2 linked regions of the Homo sapiens genome follow. The protein of the gene in region 1 purifies or fractionates together with the protein of each later gene. This does not show direct contact. Each region holds a gene or a part of one and is shown on either strand. Other genes may lie near its edges.

What was found.
Region 2: the proteins of JRKL (region 1) and CEP83 purify together in Homo sapiens (affinity purification with mass spectrometry; one large-scale study listed by BioGRID and IntAct). This does not show direct contact.

Annotation. Positions count from the first base shown.
Region 1 is NC_000011.10:96,388,775-96,393,130, forward strand, and holds the start of JRKL (jerky protein homolog-like), read left to right. Parts: upstream 1-1,238; 5' UTR 1,239-1,299; exon of another isoform or gene 1,300-1,708; 5' UTR 1,709-1,875; coding exon 1,876-3,450; 3' UTR 3,451-4,356.
Region 2 is NC_000012.12:94,453,230-94,457,047, reverse strand, and holds part of CEP83 (centrosomal protein of 83 kDa), read left to right. Parts: intron 1-3,818. UniProt on the Homo sapiens protein: Component of the distal appendage region of the centriole involved in the initiation of primary cilium assembly.

The sequences.
Region 1 (4,356 bases):
TCTACCAGGAGGGATCCATTCTTGGGTGTAAAACATCACTCCTCTTCGATGTTTTCTTTTATATGGCAGTTTGGAGAGCAAAGATTAATAAGCCGAAAAATAATTATTGAATATCTACCAAAATGCAAGCACCTGCTAGGAACTGTGCTGCCACCATTTCAAATAAACATGGTCTCTGCTCCCAAGGAGCTCACAATCTGATGAAATTACTAGGGACACCAAAAACAAGCCAGCATAATACACGATTTGAGGGCTACAGTGTATGATTAAGATCAAGTTCTTATCACACTGCTATGAATAAATTTATCATAGTTCTTCTATTGGCAGGAAAACAAGACAGAACATGACAGAAATAGGATATAAGAAAATAAACATAAAGAGAGGAAAGCCTATTTCCCCCACTTAGAATCACAGTCCAACAGTCCACAATTTCGCAAAGTGGATCCTGCCAGCATGGTATCCGGGATAACTATATTATTCATTAAAATCCGTTAACAATGAAGGTTAATGCAGCAGGAATGAGTGGTAGACAGTGGAATAGATCCTCTCAGGAATTAACACCCGGAAGGGTGACTTTCATGATTACAAACCTCTTTGGCGGGACGCAGGAACCCAGCGCCCGCTAGCCCACTAGTCCGTCACTCTGCCTCCAGGAGGGAGGGGCACAGTAGCTAGGAAACCGGACCCTCAGGCCAAGCTTCGCGATGACGCGCGCAGGACGACGGAAACCCCCAGACCCCAAAAGAGCTCTGCACCGAGAAAACAATTACAAGGGTCTGGAAAGGCCAGAAACCCGAGAAATCACCAACCGAGCTCCCTACATCAGTTCCAAGCACCTCCCCAAGGCGGAAATAACGGGCACCGCGCCCACTGCAGCTCAGCTGAGGAGGGTTAGAGGCGCAAAGGGCTGAGGGGCGTTCTCCGGCCCACCCAAAGAGCGCCCGCGGGAATTTTTCTCTTAGTCCGCGAGGAGGCACGGCTTCCCCCGCCCCTCTCATAAACCATTAGCACCGGGAGCGCGAGCGAGTCCCAGCCGGGAGACAGCCCCGCACCGCCCTCGCGCTCTCACCTTTCAAAGCGCCTCCACCTCTGCCTCCGCCTCCGCCCCTGCCCCGGCAACCAGCTCAGGACAAGCGATGCTCCTCCCCCCCTTCCGGGGACCAAGGGAAGTCCCGCCTCTGGGTGGGGCGAGGGGTGGGGCCAGGCGGCGGGAGGGATCATCTTCCGGGAGCGTGGCTAGGGGCGGAGCGACTGCCGCGCGATAGTCAGGGAGCTGTGCGGGTCCTGGTTGCAAGAGAGGTGGGGAGAGGGGCCTGGCGGGTTTTGAGGGACTGGGAGGACTGTCCCGGCTAAAGCTGGCGCGGGAAACTGGGGCTGCGCGGCGGGAGGGCCCTGCTGCTGGGGAAGGAATCTAATATATCCGTTCCCCTGAGGAAGGGTGCCAGTCCTTGACTCCTAGGCTCTTCGGCTCTCTGTCGTAACTTTGGGGTGTGGCAGGGGTTAGTGACGCGCGGTTACCCGGGATCTGGACGTGCAGGAGGTTCGTGGCCACAATGGGGGTATAGTCTTTCTCACGGCTGCTGGGGTAATAAAACACATGCTTTTAATCCGGATTATCCGCGGTGACATGGGGCCTCCGCTACTGCCCGTATAAGTTAAAGAAAGGCCTGTTCTCTCAAACTTCCTCCTCTTTCACCTTCTTCTGCAGTCTATTTGCCAGCCAACCCCAGCCCGGGAGGGGATCAGGGCCACCAGGTTGCTGGTAAGGATGAAAGACTGAGTGTGTTAAGACTGTTGAAGTGAGCCTGTGTAAGAGAAGGAAGGATTTTGTGGATTGCTACATTGTGAGTGTGGGGTGAGTCCCAGAACCTCGCTATGTCAGGGAAACGGAAGCGTGTGGTGTTGACTATTAAAGATAAGCTTGATATAATAAAGAAACTTGAAGACGGAGGTTCTTCCAAACAACTGGCAGTGATTTATGGAATTGGTGAAACAACAGTTCGGGATATAAGAAAAAATAAGGAAAAGATTATAACTTATGCAAGCAGTTCTGATTCCACAAGTCTTTTGGCCAAGAGGAAATCTATGAAGCCATCCATGTATGAGGAATTGGACAGGGCAATGCTGGAATGGTTCAACCAGCAAAGAGCAAAAGGGAATCCCATATCTGGACCAATTTGTGCAAAAAGGGCAGAGTTCTTCTTTTATGCTTTGGGAATGGATGGTGATTTTAACCCCTCTGCCGGTTGGCTAACTCGTTTTAAGCAGCGGCACAGCATTAGAGAGATTAACATTAGAAATGAAAGATTAAATGGAGATGAGACTGCGGTGGAAGATTTTTGTAATAACTTTCGAGATTTTATTGAACGAGAGAATTTACAGCCTGAACAAATCTACAATGCAGATGAAACTGGACTCTTTTGGAAGTGCTTGCCTTCTAGGATTTCAGTAATCAAAGGTAAATGCACTGTCCCTGGGCACAAATCAATTGAAGAAAGAGTCACAATCATGTGTTGTGCCAATGCAACAGGTTTACACAAACTTAAACTTTGTGTTGTGGGGAAAGCAAAGAAACCTCGCTCCTTTAAATCAACTGACACCTTAAACCTGCCAGTCTCTTATTTCAGCCAAAAAGGTGCATGGATGGATCTTTCCATTTTCCGACAATGGTTTGATAAAATTTTTGTGCCGCAAGTTCGAGAGTATTTAAGATCTAAAGGCTTGCAGGAAAAGGCTGTGCTCTTGTTGGATAATTCACCAACACATCCAAATGAAAATGTCCTAAGGTCAGATGATGGCCAAATATTTGCTAAATATTTACCACCTAATGTGGCCTCATTGATTCAGCCTTCAGATCAGGGAGTCATAGCAACGATGAAGAGAAATTATCGTGCAGGTCTTCTCCAGAACAACTTGGAAGAAGGTAATGACCTGAAATCATTCTGGAAGAAGCTAACTCTGTTGGATGCACTTTATGAAATAGCAATGGCATGGAACTTAGTAAAACCAGTTACCATTAGCAGAGCATGGAAGAAGATTCTCCCTATGGTAGAGGAGAAAGAGAGCCTGGACTTTGATGTTGAAGATATTTCTGTGGCTACTGTGGCTGCCATTTTACAACACACCAAAGGATTGGAAAATGTGACTACTGAGAACCTTGAAAAATGGCTTGAAGTAGACAGTACTGAACCAGGCTATGAAGTGTTAACTGATAGCGAAATCATCAGAAGAGCACAAGGCCAGGCAGATGAATCCAGTGAAAATGAGGAGGAGGAAATAGAACTAATTCCAGAGAAACATATTAATCATGCAGCTGCCCTCCAGTGGACTGAAAATTTATTGGATTATCTAGAACAACAAGGTGATATGATTCTACCTGATAGACTGGTAATACGTAAACTTCGAGCCACCATCAGAAATAAACAGAAGATGACAAAGTCAAGTCAATAATGTCATTTCAATTTTATTGTTCTGCTCATTGTGTTTGTGACAAACTCTTTGCAATATGGCTTAATTTTCTTTGTGTTCTGAATTCTCAGACTTGGTCCTGTGAAATACAGGCACAAAATGTATCTGAAGTGGTTTGAGGATTATGTGTTTTCATCATCTGTGTCTTTTGTCCTTTTATTTGTACAGATAATCAGAAGATGATACTGAATAGATATAAATTACATGTACACATGTATTCACTTTTTAGAATCTGCAATTATACCTTCTGTAACAGTGGCATTCCCTTAATTTTCTAGTGAAAGTTAGAGATAACTGAACAGACTGAAGCACTTTTCTGAAATCTTTTGCTTGATTTATGAAGGCTGCCATAGTTATCTTTTCTTGTGTTAACCATCTTAAATGATGTTTTGTATATTTTAATAGACTGATAGGATGAGAAAGATTTATATTATTAGATTTCAGGATGATTTATAATAATTCAAAAATGAAATTCAATAATGGGGAAATAATTATGAATTATAGAAATTATGCCTTCATTCTCTTACATTTGTGTGGGTTGCAAGAGGGGGAGATTATTCTGGAAATGAAGTAAATATGGGAAGTTATTGCCAAATGAGAGAGAAACTATGGGAAAGCTGATCTATAAAGAGGCATTCTGATCAATTCATTTGTAGGAAACTGGGAAATAAAAACCTGGGGAACTTTAGGTTATTTATACAAAGGGAATAAATAGGCTGATTTTAATTTGGTAAGTTGATCTTTTTATTATGAATTTGGTAATAGTATAGGTTTATTATTTATTCATCTAATTTTATAGTACAGGTTTTGTAATGTTACATGTGATGATATGAGCTCCCACCTTATATGGGGGAACATCTTGGGAATTTGAGATTTAATAAGTTTTTT
Region 2 (3,818 bases), on another chromosome or scaffold:
TGTACCTTTTCTATAAGGTTCAACTCCACCATGACCTCATACATACATACATAGGAATAGTATGTATTTGTGAGTTAAATTTATTTGATACTTATACTTTTTATTGTATTATTTTAGCTTTCTTGACTTCCTAACTAGATTGTAAGCTTATTAAGGGCAGGACTTCAGATCTCGATGAGCTGTATCCTTAGTCTTTTCCAAATACAAGTTGCTGAATAAATGTTTCTTAAAGATGACTGATATGATTAGGCTTTGTGTCCCCACCCAAATCTCACCTTGAATTATAATCCCCATAATCCCCATGTGTCAGGGAAGAGACCAGGTGGAGGGAATTGGATCATGGCGGCGGTTTCCCCCATACTGTTCCTCGTGACAGTGAGTTCTCATGAGATCTGGTGGTTTTATAAGTGTTTGGTAGTTCCTCCTGCATTCATTCTCCTTCCTGCTACCTTGTGAAGAAGGTGCCTTGCTTCCCCTTCACCTTCTGCCATGATTGTAAGTTTTCTGACGCCTCTCCAGCCATGTGGAACTGTGAATCAATTAAACCTCTTTCCTTTATAAATTACCCAATCTCAGGCAGTTCTTTATAGCAATATGAAAATGGACTAATACAATGACAGATAGGCATTTCTACTTTCCCCCACTTTTGTAAGTATCATGAAAGTAAGGTTGTTGAGAGAAGAGAGTAAGTGAAGGGGAAATGGCAACAGTAAACTATAAAAAAGATTGAAGAGTGGGAATTCACGGAATCAGAAATAAAGATTCTGTTCCTAGAAAGTGAGTATTTGAGAATTTCCCATGGCAATACCAGCAGTAAGGACTCTCAGGAATGCTGGCACTATTCTTCAGTGGGCTTGGGGAGTTTGGTCAATTTCCTGGTTCCTAGTAGAATATCAGTTTATTAATTATATTTTTTTCATCAGGACTGCCCTCTCTAGGTCATGGAGAGATCACTGACTGTCAAGTCTAGTACTATTTCTTTTTTCTTTTTTTTTTTTTTGAGATGGAGTTTTGCTCTGTCGCCCAGGCTGGAGCGTAGTGGTGCAATCTTTGTTCACTGCAACCTTGAACTCGTGGGTTCACGTGATTCTCCTGCCTCAGCCTCCCAAGTGGCTGGGGCTAACAGGTGCATGCCACCACACCTGGCTTTTTTTTTGTATTTTGAATAGAGACAGGGTTTCACCACATTGGCCAGGCTGGTCTCGGAACTCCTGGCCTCAAGTGATTCACCCACCTTGGCCTCCCAAAGTGCTGGGATTGTAGGTGTGAGCCAATGCGCCCGGCCTACTATTTCTTTTAACTGAGCTATAATCCAGGATGGAAGAAATTAAGGAAATGCCCAGTTATTTGCCTTCTGTATATTGTGACTTCAGATTGCTTTTGGATTAAAATTCAGAGTTAGTAGGAACCTAAACCTGGCCATTCCCTTTTGGAAAGCACCTATCTTCTGTCTCAAAATATGTCTATAAAATGTCCATGTAGTTTTTACAGTCTCACCAAAAATCCTGTATCTAATGCTTATAACAAAGAGTTACTTCAGTTGAAGATATAGAAAGTGAAGTTGAGTCTCAGAATGCTTTCATAAATATTCGTTTGATTCAGTTACTTCTTGAGTGAATTTGCCATTCTAGCTTCTGAGTTGTTGCCCAGTAACACAATTGCAGTATAATATAGCAACCCTTGAAAACAGTAGCATTGGACTATAGGGATTTTCCTGATGAAGTTGCATTGCCTATCTCTGATGTTCATATTCAGCCTCTCTCAAGTGTGATTGCATTTTGTTTTAAGGCAGCTATTTCAGATATTGTTAAACTTAAGGGGCATGCAATATATGCTCTTAAGGATATTTTTTAGAGTACTGATGAATTATAACTTCTTTCACATTGTTTTCCACATAGAGATGCATGATAATGTGTCCGGAATTGGTTCATTCTGGTGGGTTCTTGGTCTCGCTGACTTCAAGAATGAAGCTGCGGACCCTCGTGGTGAATGTTGCAGTTCTTAAAGATGGTGTGTCCGGAGTTTGTTCCTTCAGATGTTCAGATGTGTCCGGAGTTTCTTCCTTCTGGTGGGTTCATGGTCTTGCTGACTTCAGGAGTGAGGCTGCAGACTTTTGCAGTGAGTGCTACAGCTCTTAAAGGTGGCGCGTCCGGAGTTGTTCATTCCTCCCGGTGGGTTCGTGGTATTGCTGGCTTCAGGAGTGAAGCTGCAGACTTTCGCAGTGAGTGTTACAGCTCTTAAAGGTGGCGCGTCCGGCATTGTTCATTCCTCCCGGTGGGTTCGTGGTCTCGCTGGCTTCAGGAGTGAAGCTGCGGACCTTCGTGGTGAGTGTTACAGCTCATAAAGGCAGTGTGGACCCAAAGAGTGAGCAGCAGCAAGATTTATTGCGAAGAGCAAAAGAACAGAGCTTCCACGGCATGGAAGGGGACCCGTGTGGGTTGCTGCTGCTGGCTCAGGTGCCTAGCTCTTCTTCCCTTATTTGGCCCCACCCACATCCTGCTAATTGGTCCATTTTACAGAGAGCTGATTGGTCCATTTTACAGAGTGCTGATTGGTCCGTTTTTACAGAGTGCTGATTGGTGCGTTTACAAACCTTTAGTTAGACACAGAGCGCTGATTGGTGCATTTGCAATCCTTTAGCTAGACAGAAAAGTTCTCCAAGTCCACACCGGACCCAGAATCCCAGCTGGCTTCATGTCTCAATAAGTATGTATTGAATTATTTTTTGTGTGAAGGACACGTGAAAATACTGGTTCAATTAAAGATTATTCTGGGCAGAAAAAGTATTATGTAATAACAGACTTCTCTACAACTGATATAGCCAGCCAGAGCTGGAGTGGATGAAGTTGAAATGGTTCTTTATAACATTTTTGTATTACTTCTAGAGCTTCATAGAAAGCTGAGATCACTAAGCACAATTTAATAGGTACTCTAATTTTTTTTTTTTTTTTTGAGACATAGTCTTACTCTGTCAGCAGGCTAGAGTGCAGTGGTGTGATCTCAGCTCACTGCAACCTCTGCCTCCTGGGTTCAAGCGATTCTCCTGCCTTAGCCTCCCAAGTAGCTGGGACTACAGGCACATGCAACCATGCCCAGCTAATTTTTTGATTTTTAAGAGAGACGGAATTTCACTATGTTAGCCAGGATGGTCTTGATCTCCTGACCTTATGACCCACCTGCCTTGGCCTCCCAAAGTGCTGGGATTACAGGTGTGAGCCACTGCGCCCGGCCTAGGCACTGTAATTTTGTGGGAAGAGAATTGTGATTCAGGAGACCAAGGCTTGACTGGGTGAGTCACTTCACCTTTCATGGCCTATTTTCTCATTTGAAAACATAAATCTCTGAAAGTTTCCTTCAGAAATGGTATGCTTCCAATTTAAAGCAAATTTTATTTCTCTTATATATGGGTTTAATCAATATTTGAGTGCCTATTATGTGTCTCATGCTATGCTAGGCACTGGGGAGATTGTGAATAAGACATAGTGCTAAGTCTCAAGCACCTTATTCTCTGATGGGAGAAATGGACAAAGTAATTAGTAATTTGTAATAAAGCATGTTAAATGCTATAAGGATAGATAAGAATGTGTTTTGGGGCATGTAGGAAGAATACCTGGCCTAGAACTAGAAAGAATACACAAAAATTGAGGAATGTCTCTTTAGAATCTTGTAAGTGTAGTTGTAGGGTGTACAGAGCAGTATTCAACTTGGCCCGGAGGAAGTTAGTCAAAGAAAACTAGGAAAACAATTCTTGAAGTTGGAGAGAGAGAAGAGTCATCAACGTTAGTGGTAGTTGAAATACCAGGTATAGATGAGGTTCC